Linked DNA regions of Homo sapiens. The protein of the gene in region 1 interacts with the protein of each later gene in a pairwise test. Each region holds a gene or a part of one and is shown in the gene's direction. Other genes may lie near its edges.

Evidence for each region.
Region 2: the proteins of LEPROTL1 (region 1) and LPAR3 interact in binary tests that used the Homo sapiens proteins (3 or more experiments, as listed by UniProt).
Region 3: the proteins of LEPROTL1 (region 1) and TMEM60 interact in binary tests that used the Homo sapiens proteins (3 or more experiments, as listed by UniProt).
Region 4: the proteins of LEPROTL1 (region 1) and ORMDL1 interact in binary tests that used the Homo sapiens proteins (3 or more experiments, as listed by UniProt).

What each region holds. Positions count from the first base shown.
Region 1 is NC_000008.11:30,105,393-30,109,047, forward strand, and holds the end of LEPROTL1 (leptin receptor overlapping transcript-like 1), read left to right. Parts: intron 1-353; coding exon 354-470; 3' UTR 471-3,132; downstream 3,133-3,655. UniProt on the Homo sapiens protein: Negatively regulates growth hormone (GH) receptor cell surface expression in liver. May play a role in liver resistance to GH during periods of reduced nutrient availability.
Region 2 is NC_000001.11:84,813,170-84,820,207, reverse strand, and holds part of LPAR3 (lysophosphatidic acid receptor 3), read left to right. Parts: intron 1-6,036; coding exon 6,037-6,362; 3' UTR 6,363-7,038. UniProt on the Homo sapiens protein: Receptor for lysophosphatidic acid (LPA), a mediator of diverse cellular activities. May play a role in the development of ovarian cancer. Seems to be coupled to the G(i)/G(o) and G(q) families of heteromeric G proteins.
Region 3 is NC_000007.14:77,795,416-77,802,449, reverse strand, and holds the start of TMEM60 (transmembrane protein 60), read left to right. Parts: upstream 1-4,015; 5' UTR 4,016-4,196; intron 4,197-7,034.
Region 4 is NC_000002.12:189,781,318-189,788,543, reverse strand, and holds the start of ORMDL1 (ORM1-like protein 1), read left to right. Parts: upstream 1-4,204; 5' UTR 4,205-4,275; exon of another isoform or gene 4,276-5,420; 5' UTR 5,421-5,530; exon of another isoform or gene 5,531-5,941; 5' UTR 5,942-5,948; coding exon 5,949-6,122; intron 6,123-7,226. UniProt on the Homo sapiens protein: Plays an essential role in the homeostatic regulation of sphingolipid de novo biosynthesis by modulating the activity of the serine palmitoyltransferase (SPT) in response to ceramide levels.

The sequences.
Region 1 (3,655 bases):
TTTTATGCTGCTTCTTCATAGCCCAGAAGTCAAGCTTGTTTTTGAATGGTCATTTCATGACTTTCTTTTTAAAGGAACCAAAGGTAAATGAAAATACTAGTATAAAAGTACCACTTTTATACTATAAATATATTTATACTGTATATATTTATATATATTTATACTATATATTTTTTTACTATATATATTTATACTATATATATTTATAAGTATGTGTTCAGCACTGTGACAATTATTGTTACAAGGCATGCTTCTTTTAGATCATAATTGGGATACAACTAGAGCCTTGATTTTTTTTTTTATTTTCCTTTCGTTTTTCATGCCTGTTGACTGAGTGTATCTTATTTCCATAGATTGAGTGGGGAGCTTGTGCACTTGTTCTCACAGGAAACACAGTCATCTTTGCAACTATACTAGGCTTTTTCTTGGTCTTTGGAAGCAATGACGACTTCAGCTGGCAGCAGTGGTGAAAAGAAATTACTGAACTATTGTCAAATGGACTTCCTGTCATTTGTTGGCCATTCACGCACACAGGAGATGGGGCAGTTAATGCTGAATGGTATAGCAAGCCTCTTGGGGGTATTTTAGGTGCTCCCTTCTCACTTTTATTGTAAGCATACTATTTTCACAGAGACTTGCTGAAGGATTAAAAGGATTTTCTCTTTTGGAAAAGCTTGACTGATTTCACACTTATCTATAGTATGCTTTTTGTGGTGTCCTGCTGAATTTAAATATTTATGTGTTTTTCCTGTTAGGTTGATTTTTTTTGGAATCAATATGCAATGTTAAACACTTTTTTAATGTAATCATTTGCATTGGTTAGGAATTCAGAATTCCGCCGGCTCTATTACTGGTCAAGTACATCTTTTCTCTTAAAATTATTTAGCCTCCATTATTACAAAAAATTATAAAAATAAGTTTTCAGTCAGTCAGGATGACATCACTCCCAATGTTATGCAGACATACAGACGGTTGGCATACGTTATAGACTGTATACTCAGTGCAAATATAGCTGCATTTATACCTCAGAGGGGCCAAGTGTTAATGCCCATGCCCTCCGTTAAGGGTTGTTGGTTTTACTGGTAGACAGATGTTTTGTGGATTGAAAATTATTTTATGGAATTGCTACAGAGGAGTGCTTTTCTTCTCAATTGTTAGAAGAATTTATGTTAAACTTTAAGGTAAGGGTGTAAAAACATTTTTGAGATAAGGTTTTTATTTATGTTTATTATTGTTAGAGTGAGTTGCAATGTGGGAAGAAATGACATTGAAATTCCAGTTTTTGAATCCTGTTTCTATTTATAAGTGAAATTTGTGATCTCCTATCAACCTTTCATGTTTTACCCTGTTAAAATGGACATACATGGAACCACTACTGATGAGGGACAGTTGTATGTTTGCATCATATATGCCAGAAAACCTTCCTCTGCTTCCTCCTTTTGACTTATTTGGTATGTTGTATATATTACATAAAATAACTTTTCAAATATAGTTTAATAACACTTAGAAGTGTTTACTTACCTGGAAAATAATTGCTATGCCGTACATTCAGAGTGCCCCCTCCCCTGCAAGGCCTTGCCATGATTAACAAGTAACTTGTTAGTCTTACAGATAATTCATGCATTAACAGTTTAAGATTTAGACCATGGTAATAGTAGTTCTTATTCTCTAAGGTTATATCATATGTAATTTAAAAGTATTTTTAAGACAAGTTTCCTGTATACCTCTGAACTGTTTTGATTTTGAGTTCATCATGATAGATCTGCTGTTTCCTTATAAAAGGCATTTGTTGTGTGAGTTAATGCAAAGTAGCCAAGTCCAGCTATATAGCAGCTTCAGAAACATACCTGACCAAAAAATTCCCAGTAACCAGGCATGATCAATTTATAGTGGTCGTTTACATCTAATAATTATCAGGACTTTTTTCAGGAGTGGGTTATAAAAACATTCAAGTTGGTCTGACAGTATTTTGTTAAGGATATTTGTTTGTATGTTTATTCAGTATACTTACATAAAAATTATTTCGCCATCAGCCAAAACTCAGTAATCATGACAGCTGTCTGTTGTTTTATGAAGTTTATTTCTCAAGAAAATGGGAATAAATTTGGGATTTGTTCAGCTTTTTTACTAAAGATGCCTAAAGCCACAGGTTTTATTGCCTAACTTAAGCCATGACTTTTAGATATGAGATGACGGGAAGCAGGACGAAATATCGGCGTGTGGCTGGAGCCTTCCCACTGGAGGCTGAAAGTGGCTTGTGGTATTATAATGTTCAGATTTCAAGAGGAAGGTGCAGGTACACATGAGTTAGAGAGCTGGTGAGACAGTTGGGAACTCTTTGTGCTTGTGATCTACTGGACTTTTTTTTGCAGGAAGTGCATTCTCTGGTCCTTCCCTATTTTCTGTTCTGGATGTCAGTGCAGTGCACTGCTACTGTTTTATCCACTTGGCCACAGACTTTTTCTAACAGCTGCGTATTATTTCTATATACTAACTGCATTGGCAGCATTGTGTCTTTGACCTTGTATACTAGCTTGACATAGTGCTGTCTCTGATTTCTAGGCTAGTTACTTGAGATATGAATTTTCCATAGAATATGCACTGATACAATATTACCATTCTTCTATGGAAAGAAAACTTTTGATGATGAAACAATAAAGATTTTAAATATCTATTTTAGTTTGTGGGTGTTTTTGAAATGAAAATATATGGCACACTTTCATTCTGAAGTGCATTAACATTCTAATAAGGTGATGTAAAGCAAGATGACATTGGTGTAATGTTAGAGTTGCAGAAGTTTCCATTCCAAAATAAAATGGAAACCATAGTTACAGATATTACAATGCAGCCCTGTAATTTTGAGCTGTAGTAAAAGGATTGGTAATCTGGGAAGTAGAATTTTTACAAAATCTTTTACAAAAATAGTCATAAAAGGTTTTGTTGACATTTAAGACTACTACTGATCTAAAGGCAAGGTCCTACTTCTTAAATTTTCAGAACATTTTTATGACTTCTTATTATGTATTTATTACCACTCATTATTATAGCATGTTACTTTTTGCAAACATTTTAAACAAAAAATATTTCTGTTTGGTACACTGTGAAGAGAGAAAAGTACTGTTCTGTATTTTCAAATATTAGTCGTGTCCCAAATTGTCCTAATTATAATCTTATCATATACTTTAAAAAGTTTAGGCTGTGGACACTAAATGTCTGCTCTAATATGATTTTGGGGACATTGTCAATACAGATTTTTTTTTTTTTTTTGAGACTTGCTTTGTGCCCAGGCTGGAGTGCAGTGGTACGATCTTGGCTCACTGCAACTGCTAGGTTCAAGCGATTCTCATACCTCAGCCTCCTACGTAGCTGGGATTACAGGCATAGGTCACCACACCTGGCTAATTTTTGTATTTCTTGTAGAAACATGGTTTTGCCATGCTGGCCACACTGGTCTCAAACTCCTGGCCTCAAGTTATCGCCCTGCCGCTCAGCCTTCTGAGTAGCTGGGATTATAGGCCTGCACCACCACGCCTGGCTAATTTTCGTATTTTTTGTAGAGATGGGGTTTTGCCATGTTGGCCACGCTGGTCTCAAACTCCTGGCCTCAAGCCATCACCACCACAACCCCCCTCAAACCACCCCCCCGCCCCGAAAA
Region 2 (7,038 bases), on another chromosome or scaffold:
TAGCTCAATGCTCAAGAGTTTGCATGGGGAAGTCAGGCCTGAGTTCAAATGATAACTTCTATTTTTTGGCTTGTGCACCTAGGACAAACTGTTGAGCTACTCTAAACTTCAAATTTATTGTATGTTAGTCTAGGATAATAATAAAAGTAGCAACTTTGTAAGGCTGTGAGTTTTACAGGGGAAGTGCATGTAAAGCCCTGAGCACACTGCCTGACCCAGAGTTCTCAGGAAATGCTAGAGAGGAATTAAGCAGGTAATGTGCCCAGTGCCACGTGAATGCTATAGGTAGAAAGTGCTACAGGAGTTGAGAGGAGGAAATGGACACTGTGGTGGAAGAGATGGGAGAGCTCCAGTGGAGAAGGCAGAGTATGCACTAAGCTTAGAAAGAAAAGCAGACCTCAGATTAGGAGGTGAGAAGGCATTCCTGGCACGGCGAGCCAAAGAGCAGCAGAGGAGGACTGTGGATGCCTTGCCTGTAGACTACTTTTGCTGCCACTCTTTGTATATTTATTTTTGCGTATGTGCTCAAACATTTTCCCAAATGCAAATTGAAGATATTCATCTCTAGAGATGCTTATTTTCTCATTTGAAAAAACTGTGCTCCCTCTCTCTTTTCCATGGCTTTTTGCTAAGTCTATATGGCATCTATAATTTTGCTTATGGAGTCAGCTTGATTAAACCATTTTGGGTCAGCATGGAGAAATAGGTTACAAAACTGGCTGTGCATCATGATCACCCAGGGAACTTTTTAGTCCTGCAGATTTCTGTGTCCCACCCGAGATTCTGACTATTGGGTCTGATGTGGGACCAGAGAATATGCATTATTTTAAAAGTTCCTTTAATTTTCATTTGGCTTGGTCAAAAGTTTGAAAAACACTGGTAATCTTTAAGGCCCCACCCAGCTCCAGTGATCTGTATTTCCCATAACAGTAACATTTTTATTCTCTCTGCTATTCTCAAGAGAGGGTTACTGTGTTGTCAAGAGAGAAAAACTAAACAAGCCAGACATCAAAAGCTATAGCTACCAACTTTGATGTGAAGAGTCCTTTCTATATGAAATTGTATAATTCCAAAAAATCCAGGTGGGAGTGTTCCAAGGTCCTTATGCTGACGGGAAGGAAGGACAAACACTGGCCAACTTTATACTTTGTTAAACATGTAAGTCGAGATTTAATAGAGTCTACAACTTCCAAACCAGTGGAAGGGGGAAAATGAAACCAAAGGAAATGAAAAAATAAAAGATCTCAATACGAAAAAAGAGAGGGGGAAAAAAGCGAAACATAGAAAAAAATGAAACAAAGAACAAAATAAGATGCTAGAAGTGAATTCCAATATATTGATAACTAAAATCAGTGCAAATCACGGTACAGTTAAAAAACAGATCAATCTAAACAATATGATGTCTAACATTACATCCGTATATTGGAAAACCATGAGAAAAAGCAAGAAGATGATTAGCCCAAAATGTATGATACGTTTATCTCAACAGGAGAGAGGGCTCCTGGGGTGGGCACCCAGGAAGCTCTAAAGATACGATAGTGTTCTTTGAAGTTTCTTTAAGTTCTTTAAGTTGGGTGGTAAGTAGACAGGTATTCTTATTTTTTTTATTCTTTTAAGCATTATTTTTTAAAGTTCACTATATTTTTTGTAGTTTTGTTTGAATAATATAATACACCCCCCTGGCATGCGTGCATCGCACACACACTCAAAAAAGGATAAAAATAAATTGCCAATGTTTTCCTAAAGCCCCACTCTCATATTATTAGATGTGAATTTTTAATGTGATTTTTTGTTCTTTAATGACGTGATTTTTTTGTCATGAAAGTTTTCTCCCCAGCACAAAACTCTGTTTTGAATTAATCTTGTGACCCAACACTCCAAACAAGTCTTCACATTGATGCTTTTTGTCATAATACGATAATTCCTATATAGTTTCCCTTTTCGTTGAATTACATAAAATAATTCATTCAATTAAAACCTTATAAGCTTTTTATTGAGCAATGATCTTGTGTCAGATGCTGTTTTAATCATTGTATATGAATTAATCCATTTAATTTTTATAAAAACCCTTGGGAATGGTACTAATCCTGCCCTCATTTTAAGCCTGAGGTAACTACAGCACAGAGAAGTTAGGTGATGTGGTCAAAGGCACACAGCCGATCAGTGGAAGAGCCAGGATTGGAACCCAGGCAGCCTGGCACCAGAGCCATGTTCCTGACTTTGTGCTAGGCTGCTCAGCTGTGGCCCGTAAAGCATCTTACTACTGAAGAGAGTGAAGGAGGAGTAGGAGGGTACCTCTGGACTTCAAGGGCCCCTCCGTAGTATGTCATGTCTGACCATAAAGCTACATATATCACAATTACATCATTCTTTGGTTGTTAAAGGAAAGATTTTTTTTTTTTTTTGGCCAGGAAAGGAAGAAAGGGAGGGAGAGATGGAAGGAGGGAAGGAATCCAAAGGAATCCAACAAAAATATTGGCTGATTGGCTGGCCGTGGTGTCAGAAGAGAAATAAAAATCTGCTGATCTCATCTTTATGCTGTTTCCAATGAACAACAAAAGGCAAATGTTCTTCGACAGAACAGCACAAACATACTAGGTGGCTAAACTAGAGAACAGGTACTTCAGAGATGTTGCCTTAAGCAGATGCTCCCCGGCAGTGACCCTGGGAAACAGCTGTTCCAAGCCTCCTCCACCTGGAGGCCAAGATCTCTCTCCAAACACATCTCAGAAGAGATGCACAGTTTATCTAACAGTTCATACTTTGAGGGGGTTTGCTCTATGTTAGCAGTTAAACATAAGTCCTCCCCACGCACCTCCACACCCTAGGCTCTGTAGTCTTGGAGAATTCATAGAGAATGTGGAGATGTCAGGAACATTCAAACAGGTAACTGGACTAATTCTTAAAAGTGAGGGGTGTGTGTGTGTGTGTGTGTGTGTGTGTGTGATAGATCCTGGAAAATATTTATCACTTAGTTGCCTACCAATCTACATAAATCCAGAAGAAAAAAACTAAAAGGAATGTCTTTTGAGTATTTAGCCTCAATGCTCAGACTATGACTGCTGGGAACCAGCAGGGTTCAAAGAAGAGTTTGTGTGATGCCCAGATTACTTTAAAAAAAAAATTCTCAGCATTAACAAATATGAATGAGTGTCCAGAGGTACGCATCTGGGAACTAGTAGATAAAATTCAATATGTGTCTCCTGGAGAAAAGGCTAAAGAAAGACAGAAAGCGTTAACTGTCTTCAAAAACCTGAAGGGCATCACATAGAGAAAGCACAGACTTTTCCTGGGCTATTGCAGAGGATCACACAAAACAAATGGAAGAGTACAACAGGCAGAGTTTGGATGCAAGCCTTCTTTTCAAGTAAATGAAGATATTTATATATTTTTTTGCTTTTTACTTTTTTGGAGATGGAGTCTTGCTCTATTGCCCAGGCTGGAGTGCAGTGGCACAATCTCGGTTCACTGCAACTTCGCCTCCTGGGTTCAAACAATCCTCCTGCCTCAGTCTTCCAAGCAGCTGGGACTACAGGTGCCTGCCACCATGCCCAGCTAATTTTTTGCATTTTAGTAGAGACAGGGTTTCACCATGTTGGCCAGGCTGGTCTCGAACTCCTGACCTGGGTGATCCACCCACCTCAGCCTCCCAAAGTGCTGGAATTATAGATGTGAGCCACCACGCCCAGCCTAAATGAAGTTATTTAAGAGAAGAAACCATTGTTCAGCAGTTGAAGAGCCTCCCTTGACCAGGGCATTTCCTTTGCCTGGATTGTTCTGAGATGTACAAAGGGAAGGCCTTTTTCCTATGAATGAAAGATCAGGCTAAGCGGCTTCTGAACTCTTTTCCAAGTAGGAAACTGCCGAATTCTGTGAAACTGTGGCTTTTAACTCTCCATAAAACTCAAACAAATTTGACTTGTTTGTTTCTCAGACACAATTATCGGGTGGTATGGCTAAAAACTTACTAATATGAATTCTCAAGTTGGTAGTTGCAAACTTGGCTGCCCATCCAGTTCCTTCACTTGTTTCAAACCAGTCTGAATAAAACAAAAAACCAGTCTGAATCTGTCACATTGATTGCACACCCACTAACAAGTTCTGACCCACCACTAGAAAAACTCAGACCTAGCCTAAAGTCAGTCCTCAGTTTACAGCTGAGGAAGCTGAGCCCAGCGCAATGACATGGGTCTCCCAGAGTTGTACAGTAAGTGAAGAATTAGAACCCAAATCTCTGATCTCTTATCTCCAAGTCCAGTTCTTTATTCACATATATCAGCCAGACCGAAAATAATAATACAAGGTGGAGAAAAAAGGGAACCACTGCTGAACCGTAATTATGAAATAAGGAATTCAACCCCCCTGCTAGCTACTAAACATATAGATATTTTTTGTGGAAACAGAGCACCTCATGATAACTGCTGCTCAGTGAACCCACCACAGTGTTGGGTACCACTTTCCATGACCTCTGATCCTCACAACTACCACCTCACATAGTTGGGTTTATTAACTTTATTGTATAAAGGAGGGAATGGAGGCTGAGAAAAGTGAAGTAATTCCCATAATTCGGGTCACTCATAGGTTGAGCTGTGCATACATGTCTGACCCCAAAGTTCGTGGCTCTTCCCTGCCTTACACTGCCTCTTTATAATCCTTGTCTTTCCCTGCTTGGTATTATATCTCTTAGAAGTAAGATAAAGCAACAAGAGAAATACTATGCAGAACTAATTCTAACAAGTAGAGTAGTTGGTGATATCATCTATAGACTTGCTTGTTTGTCGTCTTCTCTGTTAGTATTTTAGCTCCCTGAGTGCGTGGCCTTCACCTCACTCACTGTCTAGTACAGCTCCTGGCACATTGTTAGCTTCAGATGAATATTTATGAGTGGACAAGCAAGTGCATTTAGAAATGACAAGGACATTCGCCGAAAGCAACCACATCATACTACAGAGGCGGGTCATATAGTGGCCCAGGGCACAGCCTGTGGAGAAAGACGGCCTCTGTTCAAAATCGTGTCTCTTAAGAGTTATTTGATCATAGGCAAGTTACTTAACTTCTCTTGTGCCTCGGTTTCCTGGGGATAATAATAATGCCAATGTCATAGTGTGGTCCTGTGAGTTAATCAAGGAAAGCGTTTGCACCAGTGCCTCGCTTATAGTAAGTGCTGTATAAAGATGAGTCGTTATTGCTATCTGAGGTTATGATAATAGTAGGGAAATAGTGGACCCATGTCTTAATGGGAGAAAAATATCATGAAATTTAGAGATAAGGTAAGTATGATGCTGTGGCTAGAGACTCAGAAGAGACTACGGTTCATATTCAATTGCAGAGTCTGAAAAGTAGATTTTTAACTATCTCATCATGAAAGATTTATTTCTGACCAAAAAATCTAAATGTAGAGCAGATGATTATGCAGATGGCCCGTGAATATGTCAAAAAGAATATAGTGCTTACTAAGCATCCACATGAATTTATGAAGAATGAAATTTATGAGCAGGTGATTTGGTTAAACTACTAGAAGAATGCCGTAGACTCATTGTGTCTTATTTTCAAGAGCACATTTAGAAAATCTGATTTCTGTAACAGCAGAATGTAGGGTGAAGTATGGGAGCCCTGGAGTCAGAGAGTTCTCCTCTCATCTCCCCCTAGAATTGGGCCTTGGTTTTCTTATCTGTCCAATGTGGATAATGAGTGCAACAAAGCCTCCCAGTGTGGTTCAGAGAACTAACGGAGATCATGCATGTGCACTGCCTCCTAAGCAGAATGTAAATGTGAGTCTCTCATAATCACAAGACCTGGGTAAGCAGAAAAGAAAGTGAAATGAAATGTGATTGATAGTCAAGGAGGTTCCCACCTATTTGCCTGTACCAAGCGTAGGTCTCAAATGCTCAGATGGTAGGTGGAAGTTTGCCTTGCAGTTGTCAAAACAAATCATGAGGGCCCCTTGATGCCACTGGCTAAAGGCTGGGAGAGAAGAAAACCTGAATAAGTCCCCTAAGGTCTGAGCATCTGTTGCCTCCTCTTCTCTCCTTGCAGGGGCGTTTGTGGTATGCTGGACCCCGGGCCTGGTGGTTCTGCTCCTCGACGGCCTGAACTGCAGGCAGTGTGGCGTGCAGCATGTGAAAAGGTGGTTCCTGCTGCTGGCGCTGCTCAACTCCGTCGTGAACCCCATCATCTACTCCTACAAGGACGAGGACATGTATGGCACCATGAAGAAGATGATCTGCTGCTTCTCTCAGGAGAACCCAGAGAGGCGTCCCTCTCGCATCCCCTCCACAGTCCTCAGCAGGAGTGACACAGGCAGCCAGTACATAGAGGATAGTATTAGCCAAGGTGCAGTCTGCAATAAAAGCACTTCCTAAACTCTGGATGCCTCTCGGCCCACCCAGGCCTCCTCTGGGAAAAGAGCTGTTAAGAATGATTACCTGTCTCTAACAAAGCCCATGTACAGTGTTATTTGAGGTCTCCATTAATCACTGCTAGATTTCTTTAAAAAATTTTTTTTCATAGTTTAAAAGCATGGGCAGTAAAGAGAGGACCTGCTGCATTTAGAGAAAGCACAGAAACGGGAGAGGTTCGGCGGGTCCCTGCTTGTCCTATGAACTGCTCAGAGCTCCTGTCAGTCCAGCTGGGCCTTCTGGGTTCTGGCACCATTTCGTAGCCATTCTCTTTGTATTTTAAAAGGACGTTATGAAAGGGCTTAGACCAAAATAAATCATAATGTTACTTGAGCCACCTTATATAGCTGCTTGGAGAGTCTATGTAGTTCTTTCTGCATGCATTAAAAATGTTTAGAAATGCTTCAGCAATGGTGTTTTTTTCCTCAAAGAAACCATGGCCAGTAGCTAGGTGTTCAGTAGGAATCAAAGAAAAATCAGTAAGAGCTCCAGATTAAACCTGATTTTTAACTGAAGGAACATTCTGAGGAAAAATACTTAAAAGTAAAAAAGGTCAATGTGAAAACCCTTTTTGACCTGAAAAAGGCCTTAGTATGGTCCTCCATGCATGTGTGTGTATATGCATGTGTGTGTGTGTGTG
Region 3 (7,034 bases), on another chromosome or scaffold:
TAGGTAAAGGGGTTAAGGGATGGCAACCATCATTTTGGAATTCTTCTTTGAGTCTTAATTTGAACTGGGAAAGTAAGTATTGGAAGGTGAATATTAAATAAACATGTAATAATGGACAAACTGCTGAGGTTTTCCTATAATTTTAGTATCTAAGTATGCAATTTCCAATTATCAAAATTGGGTAGTACTCACTTTGCCCAACCACATTTACATACCATTATCATTTAAAGCTGGCCTTCACACATACATTTTATACAAAGCTACAATTACTTACCATTCCCTAAACAATCCATATTTCTGTTCTGAGACTCTGCCTCTTCCTGTTCTGCATGGAATGCCCTCTTTCTCCACCTACAAACACCACCTTCAGACCTTTAAGGCTTCAGTGGTAGCTCCCCTGAAACCCAACTAGTTCTCTCTTAAAATTATTTATTGTTTCTTTTGTATTCACTGCTTTCTATGTGCCCGTACTTTATATATTTTATTTAAGGCTTAATGTCTTCTTTGAAGTATTGCCCTTTCCATTAAACAGATAAGGAAACTGATGCTAAAAGAGGTTTGGTGTTATGTTCAAAGTCACAAAGCCTGATAGGAATTCAAATCCAGACTGTCTATACTTTAACTGAATTCTTGTCTCAAGAATTATTGGGACCACAAGCATTTTGGATTTTGGATTTTGTAATATTTGCATATACATAAAGAGATATCTTAGAGATGGGACTCAAGTCTAAACACAAAATTCATTTATGTTTCATTTACACCTTATACAAATAGCCCAAAGGTAATTTTATATAACATTTTAAAATAATTCTGTGCATGAAGCTAAGTTTTGACTGTTTTTTTGTTTTGTTTTGTTTTTGTTTTTGAGACGGTGTCTTGCTCTGTCACCCAGGCCAAGTGCAGTGGTGCGATCTCGGCTCACTGCAACCTCCACCTCCTGGGTTCAAGCGATTCTCCTGTATCAGCCTCCCGAGTAGCTGGGACTACAGGTGCATACCACCACGCCCGGCTAATTTTTTTTGTATTTTTAGTAGAGACGGGGTTTCATATTGGTCAGGCTGGTCTTGAACTCCTGACCTCAGGTGATCCACCCGCCTTGGCCTCCCAAAGTGCTGGGATTACGGGCGTGAGCCACCGCACCCAGCTTGACTGTAACCTGTCACATGAAGTCAAGTGTCTTGTGGCATCATCTTGGCACTCAAAAGGTTCCAGATTTTAGAGCATTTCAGATTTTCAGTTTACAGATGCTCAATCTGTATATATTGTATTATCGTCATTTGTTCAAATATCTATTTCTCCCATCAAATGAATGCTCCTCAAACACAGAGAAGGTGACTCCATCCCTTTATCTTCAGCAAAATCCAACAGTGCCTATTATACAATGATCTCAAAGTGTTACTGTGTACAATAGTGGATTCAATTTACGGTTTTGCAGTGTTATTTTCCACTGAGTAGTCTCCTACTATAAAGTCTCCAAGAAGCCAATTTTATTGTGGTAATAAAGTATAATGGCTTGGAATGTAGGCTTTGGAATCAGACTGCTTAGGTGTGAATCTCACCTCTACTGACTCATTTGTGAAGAAATCTTGAACAAATTAGTTAAACTAAGTCTTGGTTTGCTCATCTATAAAATGACAGTAATCAGTACCCATCTCACAGGACTAAAATGATTAAATAATATACAAGTAGTCCAACTATTTTCGAGTTTCATTTTATCCACATGACACCCTAAATTCTCTTCAGTTTAGTGAAGGTTTTTTTCATTACATATTCCTTGCAATTTTGCATTAAATGGACCAGCCAAAAAAAGTTCATGGTTTAAAAATTGGGTGGGCCACCTTCTTCATTTTTAGGGCCAACTGTCCAGTGCCAGTTTGGGCTCAAAAAAAGTTTACTCTTGGAGGCTTGACTATCTATGCAAGAGTGCCCCCATTGTATACTATACTTGTTTACTCACCACATTTTCATGCTCCACCAGAAAGTGGTCAAAATTGGAACACGAAAACTCTCCACCTCACTAACACCTAACTTAAAACTATCAGATGCATTCAGACAGCCAGTCTGTGTGGGAGGCAGGCTATTTCTGGGGCAAAAATATTTCCTGGAACCACTGTTTCTGGCCCCAGACATGGCTCATTCTCCGCAGACCTCCAGATTCCTCTCCTCTACGTTATGGAGGTGGAGCCACTACAACTGATAACGCATATCCATTTCCTTCTCTTAAAATTTGCAGTCCATACACCATATCCAAGTTAGGATTTCAAATTGTTATACTGTTTTGTGACTCTTTAGGCTAAAGTGTGCAGTTTCCAGACTTTCAGAATTCCCCTTCCAATATTAAAAATATGGTGAAAAAAGCCCAGTTTGAAAGAAAATAAACTTTACAAAAATACCTGAAAACAAGATCAAATACTAAGTCTCTTGCCAAAGTCTTGGAGAAAAAAAAAATGAAAGAAACGTTTAAAAATGGCAAAAGCTAACCAAAAACCTTAAGATTAAAGTATCACACCTGAAAAGTAGTCTCAAAGCAAGGAGGATATACTATTAACAAAGAAAGCAACCGAAAACTACAAAATATTTAATATTCACCATGAATTTCAAAATTACTTGGCATGTAAAGTACACACTGAGATTAATAAATTGTTCCAGATTCTGCACTGCCCAGGTTAGTATAAGGCAGTTCCTTGTTTTCGCCACGCTAAAAATAAGAAGGGTGACAGATTAGTGACAGAATGATCCCTGAAGTTACACAAGGAGGTGCTGAGTTAGAAAGCCATGACTCGAAGGACAATACCAGAATGCTGGCTGTCAACACTGGGCAGATAAAAATAAGAAAAGCTGAAGCATGCTGATGGAGCACGGTATTGTTTCCAGACGGGAACTATCCCTTAAGGCCCATGCCTTAAGCACCCACTCCGCCGTGTTGGGATCAGAAAACTCGACTGCCGCCTGCTCAGAGGGGGCAGGGCAGCGACCCTCCTTCCACCTCCTCCAGCGCGCGAGCCGCCGCCCCCTCCCGAGCCCGCTCCTCCGGCCGCTAGCTGACATCTCCCCGCCAGCCGGGCTAGCCACCCGAGACCCCTGAACGCCCTTCCAGGACCCGACGACCCCTCAGCACAGCGCCAAGGGAAGGAAGCAAAGGACAGGGGCCTGGAAGCGGGGCCCGAGGGGCGGGTGGCGCGCTGGGCTTCGGCCCGTCACCATCAAGACTTGAGGACCGCGCGAGCTCGGGAGGAAGGCGGCTGAGCCTCCGCCACCGGCCGACTGATGAGAAGGGGTCGCGGCTGACCCCGGCCCTCAGGTACGGGAGACTGCCGGGAAAGTCGCCGGCGACGGAGGGCGACGCGTTGGCCCCGGAGCCCCCACCTCCATCCCGACGACCGCTCTCCTCCCTCGTCCCGATCCATCCTCGAAATTCTGTCAGAACTCGACGACCTCCACACTGCCCACCCGAGCGCGGAGGTGATGCCGCTCTTACCGTAGGAGCGAGCGCCGCGCCGCTAGGAGGCGGCTGAGGTGCGCGCGGGAGACTCCGAAGCTAGCGCCGCCGCCAACAGAGCCCAAGGAGCCACAACGAGGCTGCCCGCGGGCGCGCTGCCTCCAGAGGGTTGCCCCACCCCCTCTCCCGCAGGATTTTGCGCCGGAGCCTGCAGTCACTGCGCGCGGGCAGGGAGGATGGGAGGAGGGGCGGGGCGTCCCGAGAGGGCGGAGCTGAGCGCCGGCTGCTCTGATTAACATCTGTGGGCCCAATGGGAGCACGGAAACTCCAGGCTGATCTTGGACTGACTTCCCTACTAACCCGTGACAGTAGAGAGGCGGGACCAATGGGTCTTTTTATTGCCGCCTTTCTGTCGAACCCGAAAGTAAGGAAAGGTCGGTTGGTTTGCACTGGCGGACAAATGGTCCAATTACCGCGGAAAAGGGACCTCTGAATCCAGATTGGCGTCCTCTCTACCTATAGGGTAGGCTCAGGGGCGGTGAGAACCAGCCCCGGATGTGGGCGCGGCACTGAGGTAGAACTGAGAGATCCTCTACCGCAGTCGTTTGAGGAGGCGGAACTGAAGTTTTTTCTTAATTATCATGTGACGGGTTCTGGATTTAATGGGGGGAAAAGGGCGGAAAAGGACAAGGATCCAAACTGGCGAATTTGCTGATCTTCGCGTCCCTCTCCGCTTTCCGGCCGGCAGCGCTGCCAGGTGAGTCTGGGGCTCTGCCCTAGCCCGCACCGTACGCCGGCGCTGGTCTCCTGATGCTTCCGTGGGCTGTGCGGCCGACCCTCAACCCATCACACAGCCAGCCCCAAACGCGCACACGCCTGCTTGGCTCCAGGGCTTCTGTGCGCATCCAGCAGGAACCGTGTTAAACTCCAGCATGTGCTGGGCTTACAGCCCATGAAAGGGGAGCGTCCCGGTGGGGCGCCGCGAGCCGACTGTCGGTGTTTGCAGAAGGGCAAGTATAGTTTAGGAGCGTCCTGAAGTTCCAGGGGCAAATAGGCCCCCAGATGAGCTAAGTTGTAAGCAGAACGCTGTTCCTTTGGCCAAGGCTGTTGCTGCACGGGCTTTTCAAAAGCGACTCATTATGAAGAAGAATAAATATGTGGGCTCATGAAGCAAAATTATCTTTGGGATGAGGCAGGTTCACTTGGTAGACTACTGGCAGTGGCGAGAGAAGGGAAATGGGGGCTGATACCCAGCCGTGGGCTATGTGGGTGGGGCTCTATATATGTCCATACAGGGGTAACTCCGAAGGTTTTAAAAATGAGTAAGGAATCATTAACAAATATTTAACTGTCTTCCTAGTGCCAGAAATAACCACCTTAAATGGGAAACATTTTAGTTGAGCACATTTTTGGAGTACGCACCTCCCCCTTTCTTGTGGAGAGAATAGTAGGAAACATAACGACTGCTCAAATTGATGAAGACGTAAATGTAAAACTGGGATCGTATGTCATCGTTGTAGCTCAGCATACAGGCGTACAATCCTTCAATCGTCATTTAAGTATCAGCAGTGCTTCCCCATTGAGGGTATTTCCGTGCAAGAACATAACAGAATTTTGTTGCATCCCACATTATAAATCTTGTAGGCACAATAAGATTGTTACTTGCATCCTTTCACCTCCAGCCCTAAAGCACCTGTGGTAAGTACAGCCAAATGTAAGAAAAAAATGAAGCTTGTCTTATCCGATAGCAGATGGAACAGTTAGGTTTAAGCAAGTGTATAATCATAAACCGTTTTTCAGAGGTTCACAAAAACGGCCTGATAGATTGGAGGTGGGGATTGTGCAATTTACGGGATGAAATCCATCCATGGTTATTAATCAACACACACCCCTCCAACCCTGCTTCCAAATTCAGTCCCACATCCCACTCTATGGCAGCCTCTGGCCGGGAAAGGAAACCAACACAGAAAAATGCCTCCTTAGAAGCAAAATTACTGCAGTATGAAGCCTTTGCCAATTAAGTAAACAAGTTTAAGTGCCACTAGATGGGTATAAGGGAAAAGAGGTGAGTTAGGAGACTAATACTTAACTGTTGAAATAGAACAGATGTGTCCTCTTGCACTGTGATAGCCACCCACTATTTAAAGTAGTAGAGATGTTGCACAGTACATCAAAGTTAGTTCTAAAATATAATTGAGCACGCTAATCTAGGGTATTTGGCTCAATTAGCCAGTTCCTTCACCTTTTCCCTGTTATCTTCCTGCATCTTTCCTCCTACCACGCATGCTTTTGTTCCTATCCCTAGCACCTTCTGATCTTTTTCTCTTTCCATCAAGTATCCTCTCTCATCTTCAGTGTCATTCCCCATTGGCTTATTTCTGTTTATAGTCATAAATTCTTCCTTTCCTGAAAATTTCTTCTTTCAGTTTCATATACCCTATCTTTCATTTTTCTCTTCTCCAAATGCCTCAAAGGAATAAAATGTTCTCAATTGTTTCCATTTCTTGGTCTTCTGTTAACTCCTTACCCAGCTGCATGCAGTCTGGCTTCTGATTTCCCATTCTACTTATCCTTTTTCCAAGTGGCCATAAAGGTTGGTATAAAAAACTTAAGTAGAGGAACATATCATAAACCTATATGTGAAGATTAAATATAATAAATGCTATCCCAAGCTAAGTTTTATGCATTCATAATCAAAATTCTAGGTTTTCAAGAATCAGCAAATTTAGCATTGAAAAACTGTAAGGGCAAAATAGAAAATATTCTAGAAAAGAGGCCGGCGTGGTGGCTCAAACCTGTAATCCCAACACTTTGGGAGGCTGAGGTGGGTGGATCACTTGAGGTCAGGAGTTCGAGATCAGCCTGGCCAACATGGTGAAACCCCATCTCTACTAAAAATACAAAAACTAGCTGGGCGTGGTGGCGCACACTTGTAATCCCAGCTACTTGGGAAACTTAAGTGGGAGGATCACTTGAACCCGAGAGGCAGAGGCTGCAGTGACCTGAGATCGTGCCACTGCACTCCAACCTGAGTGACAAGAGTGAGACTCCGTCTCAAAAAAAAAAAAAATTCTAGAAAAGAGAACAACGAGTAGATACTAGGCCTTCCAGATATTAATACATTCCTAGAGCAACACTAAGTCATATAGTATTAGTGCAAAAGAGAAACATATAGATCAATGAGGCAGAATAGTGATATAAGAAATAGCCCCCAAAATTTAGCATCTAATAATCACAAAACATCAAAAGTTTATTAGGTGGTCCTGATTATTGAATGGATAACAAGTAGCTTAAAAAAATACATATATACACCACCAATCAGTGAGACTATTGTTAAAAGGAAAAAAACTATTATACCAAGAAAGATATTTGTAAGAATTTTTATGAGAAAATAAGTGAGAATTTAAGAATATGTTTCAAATTATATGAAAATCCAGTGTTATCAGTGCCTTTTATATTATATAGCCCAACAACCTCTTTACAATCTTTTTTTTTTAGACAGTGGTCTCACTCCCATCGCCCAGGTTGGAGTGCAGTGTGCAACGGCTCACTGCAGCCTCAACTTCCCGGGTTCAGGTGATTCTCCCACTTCAGC
Region 4 (7,226 bases), on another chromosome or scaffold:
CTGAAATCACACTACTTTGGTTTTATCCTAGCTCTTACACTAACAGATATGTAACACTGAGGAAATTAAACTCTCTAAAATGCAATCACCTAATCTATAAAATGGATCTAATAATGATATCATATGATTGTGGTGAGAAGTAAATAAAGTAGTATATATAAATAATGTATTACAGTGTTTGGCATATAAGTGCTAAAAACATCCCAGGATACTGGGACTAAACTGAGCTCCTCTAAACCCCTAAATGAACAATCCCCCCACCTCTAACCCCTACCCCAAAGGGGCTCACACATTAGGCCTGGGTTCAAGAAGTCTTCCACCTCAGCTAGGAAATCCCAAGGATCTAAGAAAAACACTGATCAACAAAACTTTGGGGTATAAACTTAGACTGACTCCTTCTGAGCAGTCTTAATCTCATCATCTTTGTCTCGTTTCCTATAATACCTCATCTCCTACAATGCCAAATCCAAGATCTTTTTTTTTTAAATCTCTATAATTGCATCCCAATATTCCTCATTCTTCTAGTTTACTAAGATCATGGCAATTCATAGCATGAATTCTGTCACACTTTATCTACCCCATCCCATTGCATCCTCTGGTCTTAAGATGTCTGCATCTCTTTTCATACTCTTCTTCCATGTCATGTCATCTTTCTTCTCTCCTAATTGCTACAGTCTGAATATTTGTGTCTCTACCAAATTCATAAGCATATGATATCTGTATTGTCTCCATTTTATAGATTAGCTGATTGAGTTTTAGAAAGTTTAATTTCCTCAGTATCATATAGCTGTTAGTAAGAGCTAGGATAAAACCAAAGTAGCGTGATTTCAGAGCCTGCCATTTTAACCAGTACTCTATCCAGCACTGTTCAACAGAACTATAATGTACATACATCATTTAAAATTTTCTAGTACTCACATTAAAAAAGCTAAAAAAAAAATAAAAAAGTGAAGTTAATCTTAATTACGTATTTGGATAATCTAATATATTCAAAATATCAAATATCATTTTGTCCTATAATCAATGTAAGATAACTGTAAAGATTAAATTAATTAAATTGTATAATTAAACCTACTACATCTTTGTCCTGAACTGTAAAACTTTTTTTTTCCTGCTGTACAACTTTTGAATGTAGGAAATTATGTATTATGTATCTCTGGATGCCAGGCAGAACAATCAAATGCTTCACCCATGGCAAGCCCTTCACTTCATGAATATTAATGAAGGACCACTAAATATAATTTATCAGCATCTTTCTTATGCTAACGCAAACATTAGAAAAAGTATCCTCCTTCCCTTTATATACATAATTTCAATTGGCTTCCACACCATCCTCCAGCTCACCTGTATCTCACACTTTTTTTCTGGACTTTAGGGCCTTACTTCCATCTACCTTCTAAATATCATCATTTAGATGACCTGAAGGCAACCTAAACATAACATGTCCCAAACTGATCAGAGAATCTTTCTCTTTCTTTTTTTTGAGACAGAGTTTCAGGTTTCGCTCTTGTTGCCCAGGCTGAAATGCAATGGCACAATCTCCGCTCACTGCAGCCTCCACCTCCCGGGTTCAAGCGATTCTCCTGCCTCAGCCTCCCGAGTAGCTGGGATTACAGGTGCCCGCCACCACACCTGGCTAATTTTTTGTATTTTTAGTAGAGCCAAGGTTTCACCATGTTGGCCAGGCTGGTCTCAAACTCCTGACCTCAGGTGATCCGCCCGCCTCGGCCTCCCAAAGTGCTGGGATTACAGGCGTGAGCCACCACGACTGGCCTCTAATCAACTTTCTTCCTATATTTCTTGTTTGATAATAAAAGTAATAGCCAACATGAGAATTTTATATATATTATCCTATTTAATCCTCACAACAACTCTACGTATTCTATCATCCTTTATCACCAAATAGGATTTAAAGGCATGGTAACTTGCTCAAGATCACAAAACTATTAAGTGGCAGATGCACACCTTGGCATGTTTGACTCCAAAGGCCATGCTCTCAAACACCTTCCATCCAAGCACATAAAGCAAAATTAGAAACCTTGAAGTCATCCTAGAAATTCTACTCGCTCTCTACATCCTGCCACCCAGTCATCTCTCTCCTACTATCTAAATGTTTCCCAAACTAGTCCTCTCCTCTTTGTACTGCCTCCATTCGGCCTTTCTCTCCTGAACTACTGCAATAACCACCTAATTGATATTTTGACTCGAATCTCAACCACCTATAGGGTTCTTTCTGTATTTAAATTTCATCATGTTGCTGCCCCACTTAAAATTTTTATAAAGGTTTCCAATTGCCAACCAGGTTAAGTACAAACTTCTTAACAACTGGATTTTTGCCTCCTCTCCCAGTCATCCCATCGTTGCCCAAATGTGCTCTAGGGCGATCATACTGCACAGCTCGTCTTTTTTTATTTTTTATTTTTTGTGACAGGGTCTCACTTTGTTGCCCAGGCCAGAGTGCAGCGATTTTGGCTCACTGCAACCTCTGCCTCCCAGGTTCAAGCAATTCTCCTGTCCCAGCCCTGCAAGTAGCTGGGATTACAGGAGCGCACTACCACGCCCGGCTAATTTTCGTATTTTTAGTAGAGACAGGGTTTCACCATGTTGGCCAGGCTGGTCTCGAACTCCTGACCTCAGGTGATCCGCCCGCCTTGGCCTCCCAAAGTGCTGGGATTACAGGTGTGAGCCACCGTGCCCAGCCAACTTGTCTCTCTTAACATGGTGACACTCACTCCTTCCTCAGCTCACATGGTTCTCTCTCAGCTGACTTCTAATCATCCTTCCAGATTTAGTTCAGTATCAACTCTTCAAGCCTTTCTTCCCTGCTGCAGCCTCCTTTCCTTCACCTGCCAACAGATTAGGTATTCCTTCCCCTGCAGTCCCCCTTTACCTCATTTCTAATTAACCTCATCACAAGTTACTCTATTAATATGTGTTTCTGTCTGTTGCTCCTGACTCAGAGTTCTTTGAGGACAGGGGTTTTATATCAATCACACATCGCTAGCATAGCCCCTGGAATATAGCACTCTATACCATATGTGTACCAAATGGAAGGGTTTATATCGGGCTTACAAATCACAGCAAAGAATGTCTGGGAATATCAGGATAGTCAGTCTTCCATATTTGCTGGGAGGGAAAAGGAACACTTCTGAAGAAGTGCTGATGACCCGGAAAGTCAGTTAAGGACAACAGGTGTGCCTAAAAAAGAAGTAAAGATCAGAGAACTCACAGACTTCCATTAGAGAGAACACAAAGAAATCATTTATTTAAAGATCAGACTAAATCCAAAACAATTAGGTTCACAAAGCCAACAGAAATGCAAGATACAGACATACACAGCCAACATTCTCTTAAGTCAATTTCAAAATGTTGAAAGCTATTTCGGCAATAAAAATCACAAACTTTCTGCACTGCCAAGGTGAGGGAAATTACATTTCAAAGGCGATTCCAAAAAAACCTAATCAAGACTTTCCTCAGGATCAATTTTTGGTATTCACATTTCCTTAGCATGTAATACAGGTGCCTGTCTTCGGCGTACGGATAAACCCAGAAGGCCAAGAGCAAAAATCGTGATTAACTTTAAAGAGTTTAACTTGCACCCCTTGTATGATGCCACAGGATACAATACTATAAACCGCCACTCACACAAGATGAGTTACAGTTGCCATGGGTTAAATCTGCTGCCTGGAAAACAAATTTTAAGTCCTCCACCCAGAAGGGTCTGGGGAATGGGACGCAACAAAGACCAAGCCAGAACACCCCGGAGCCCAGACCTGCTCAGAAAACGCGTTCCACGTGTGCGCGCCCGCAAGCCCGGCTTCGCTTCCCGCCCCGCGGGGAGCGCCCTTAGCTGCCCTATAGCGTTCGCGCCCGGACCAGGACGAGTAGAGGGGACGGGGCCCTCGAGCCATCGAGGATATAATAAATACCCGTTAGTCACACCACACTACCTTCCTGCTAGCGCGAGGCAGGCAATTACCATCCACTAGCCGCAAGCAGCCAGCGTCTCACCCGATGCGCAGGCCCAACCCCGCACCCGCACCCGCACCCAGCACGCACGCGCGCGGCAGAGCGGGTGCAGAGAGCGCGGCACTGAGTCCCGCCTCGCCCGGGGGCAACGTGAGATTGGCGCTGCTCGCAGCCAATCCGCTGGCAGCGAGTCTGTCCGGGAAAGCTTCCGCAAGCTGCGCAGCGCCGGGCCTGAGGGCGTGTATCCGCGGCCGTAGCAGCCGGGCTGGTCCTGCTGCGAGCCGGCGGCCCGGAGTGGGGCGGCGGGTAAGTGGGCACGAACGCGGTGGACGCTGTACAGTCGCCTTCGTCGGTAGGGAACTGCTGGCGGCCTAGGGGTCGTCCTGAGAGGGAAAAGCGGGCTCCGGCTGCATCTGCGGCGCCCTGCGTGGCCGTAAGAGCCAAGTGGCCTCAGAGGCTCGCCCCCTACGCAAATCCTCGTTGTCTTGCCAGGGTCCTGACGTGACGTGCGGCCGCGAGAAGGAAGGGGCGGGTTGGGGGAGGCGCTGAGGTGGTAGCAGCGGCGGCTTTTGCTGAGTTTTCTCTGGCCCAGAGCGCTCGGGCTGTCGGTCTAGCAGGGGGGACTCCCCTGAGGGGCCGCTGCGGGTCGCCGTCTTCGGAGGCACCGGCGAGGGCAGAGCCAACAGCCTCTTCACGGTCTGTAAGGTCATTGTTTGCCAGTCGTGGGCAGCGCGGCAAACCTGCTGGGAAAAGGTTTTCTGGTTGGAATAGGATGAGTACCGCACCAGCTTTGCCTTCCAGCTGAGATGTAAATTTCAGGCCTCCATCCTGTGGAACGTGGGAAAACTATCTTGAGTGTTGGCATGTTCTAAGTATGACATAATAGTTTAATGTATGATAAATCATGGGTGTTTAGACGAAAGATTTACACATATAAATTGGAGGCTTTAGCGGTCTTAGTGTAACTAACTTTTCGTCCCCTTAACCCTTGATGCCTGTTCTATGGGTCTCTAGAGCGGAAGGAGCATTATACTCCGGAAACATTTGCTGGAAGGGGTTATGAGAAATTCCTCTCTGTATGCTAACTCCGTAATACAAGCGTTTGTGTATTTTAAAATCACAGCTGTTCCAAATATAATCTAGCCTCGTTTTCCCCCTCCGTCGGATGATAGGTGTTCTTCAGGACAGTTTTATTTTAAGCAATTCTTAGTCTCAAGTAAACACCATCATTAAAAGAACTGAGAACTATTATCAATTCTTCCTTTGGAGTCCATCTTCAATGGAAAGGAGAAGGGAAAACCTTTTTTAAAAAGAAGAAAGAAAACTGAAGTTTTTGATTTGACTAGAGAAATATTCAGAAGACTCCTTATTTTCACCTAGTTTAATCACAAAATTGAGAAACAAACATTATCCCTTGACCATGTAAATTTTACACCACATTATGTCAACAGCATGTACCTTCCACATTGAGTATTCAGAAAGAAGTGATCTGAACTCTGACCATTCTTTATGGATACATTAAGTCAAATATAAGAGTCTGACTACTTGACACACTGGCTCGGTGAGTTCTGCTTTTTCTTTTTAATATAAATTTATTATGTTGGTAAATTTAGCTTTTGGCTTTTCACTTTGCTCTCATGATATAAGAAAATGTAGGTTTTCTCTTTCAGTTTGAATTTTCCTATTCAGTAAAACAACATGCTAGAAAACAAACTTTTGGAAAGGCATTGTAACTATTTTTTCAAATAGAACCATAATAACAAGTCTTGTCTTACCCTAAAGTCAAATGCTGAAGATTCTTTACTGCTGTCATCAGCATCTACAAGTAGCATATTTTGGATGGTGTTTGTGTGCTACTTCAAAGTAACTAGGAAAAAATAATCCTCGCAACACAGGTACCTTGTCATGTCAGAATTGGGGGTGTTAGGTTGCCAGTTGTATCAGTGTTGATTCATTTCATTACTTCCTACAGAGCAAACATGAACGTTGGAGTTGCCCACAGTGAAGTGAATCCAAATACCCGTGTCATGAACAGCCGGGGTATGTGGCTGACATATGCATTGGGAGTTGGCTTGCTTCATATTGTCTTACTCAGCATTCCCTTCTTCAGTGTTCCTGTTGCTTGGACTTTAACAAATATTATACATAATCTGGTAAGAATTTCACATTATACTAAACACTTAAAAGTTTTAAGTTTAGTGGTTGCCGGAAATTAAGGGGAGGAAGGAATGGAAAGTTATTGCTTAATGGGTACAGAGTTTTTGGTTTTGCAAGATGAAGAGAGTTCTGGATGTGGATGGTAATGGTGATGATTGCACAACAATATGAATGTTTTTAATACCACTCAACTGTACATTTAAAGTCCCAGCACTTTGGGAGGCCAAGGCAGGCAGATCACAAGGTCAGGAGTTCAAGACCAGCCTGGCCAACATGGTGAAACCTCATCTCTACTAAAAATACAAAAATTAGCCGGGCATGGTGGCGCATGCCTGTAGTCCCAGCTACTCGGGAGGCTGAGGCAGGAGAATCGCTTGAACCTGGGAGGCAGAGGTTGCAATGAGCCGAGATCATTCCACTGTACTCCAGCCTAGGTGACAGAGTGAGATTTCGTCTCAAAAAAAAAAAAAAAGTGTCTAAGATGGTAAACTTTATGACATGTGTGTTTAAACATAGTTTTTAAAGAAGCTTAAGGTTTTGTGTTGTATACAACTTAGTTTTTTTAACAGCTTTTTTGAGATATAATTCACATGCAATAAAATCCACCCATTTAAAGTGTATAGTTTAGTAGTTTTTAGTATATAAGACTTAATTTTGAAGAATTCTAATCTGGGATAGAATTTTCTTTTTTCTTTCACGCTTTATTTCAACATTGGTCCTTTTTCTAAGTAAGACTTTTTTTTTTCTCATTGTATAGAATCTAGAAAATAGATCATTTTAGTTTCAATCCTTGTTAACTTATCTATCTAAATAGTGTAAGTATACTTCACTGTTTCAGTATTTAAGTTTTGAACTTAATCATCTTATGTGATTCAGGATCTTATGGTGCCTTAGCTGCTGCTTGTTACTCTCTTGTGTTAGCTCTACAGAGTATCAAAGTTTTGATTGACTGTACTGACCATATTATGCAGCCCTGGAAATTGCCTTTTACAAAAACAAAAAATCTTGACAGCGACTTTTCTTGTCTTTAATAACCCATTAAAGTAACGTGAAAAGGAGGAAATACAGTTAGTTGAGGATTTTAATTGAATCCAGTTTAG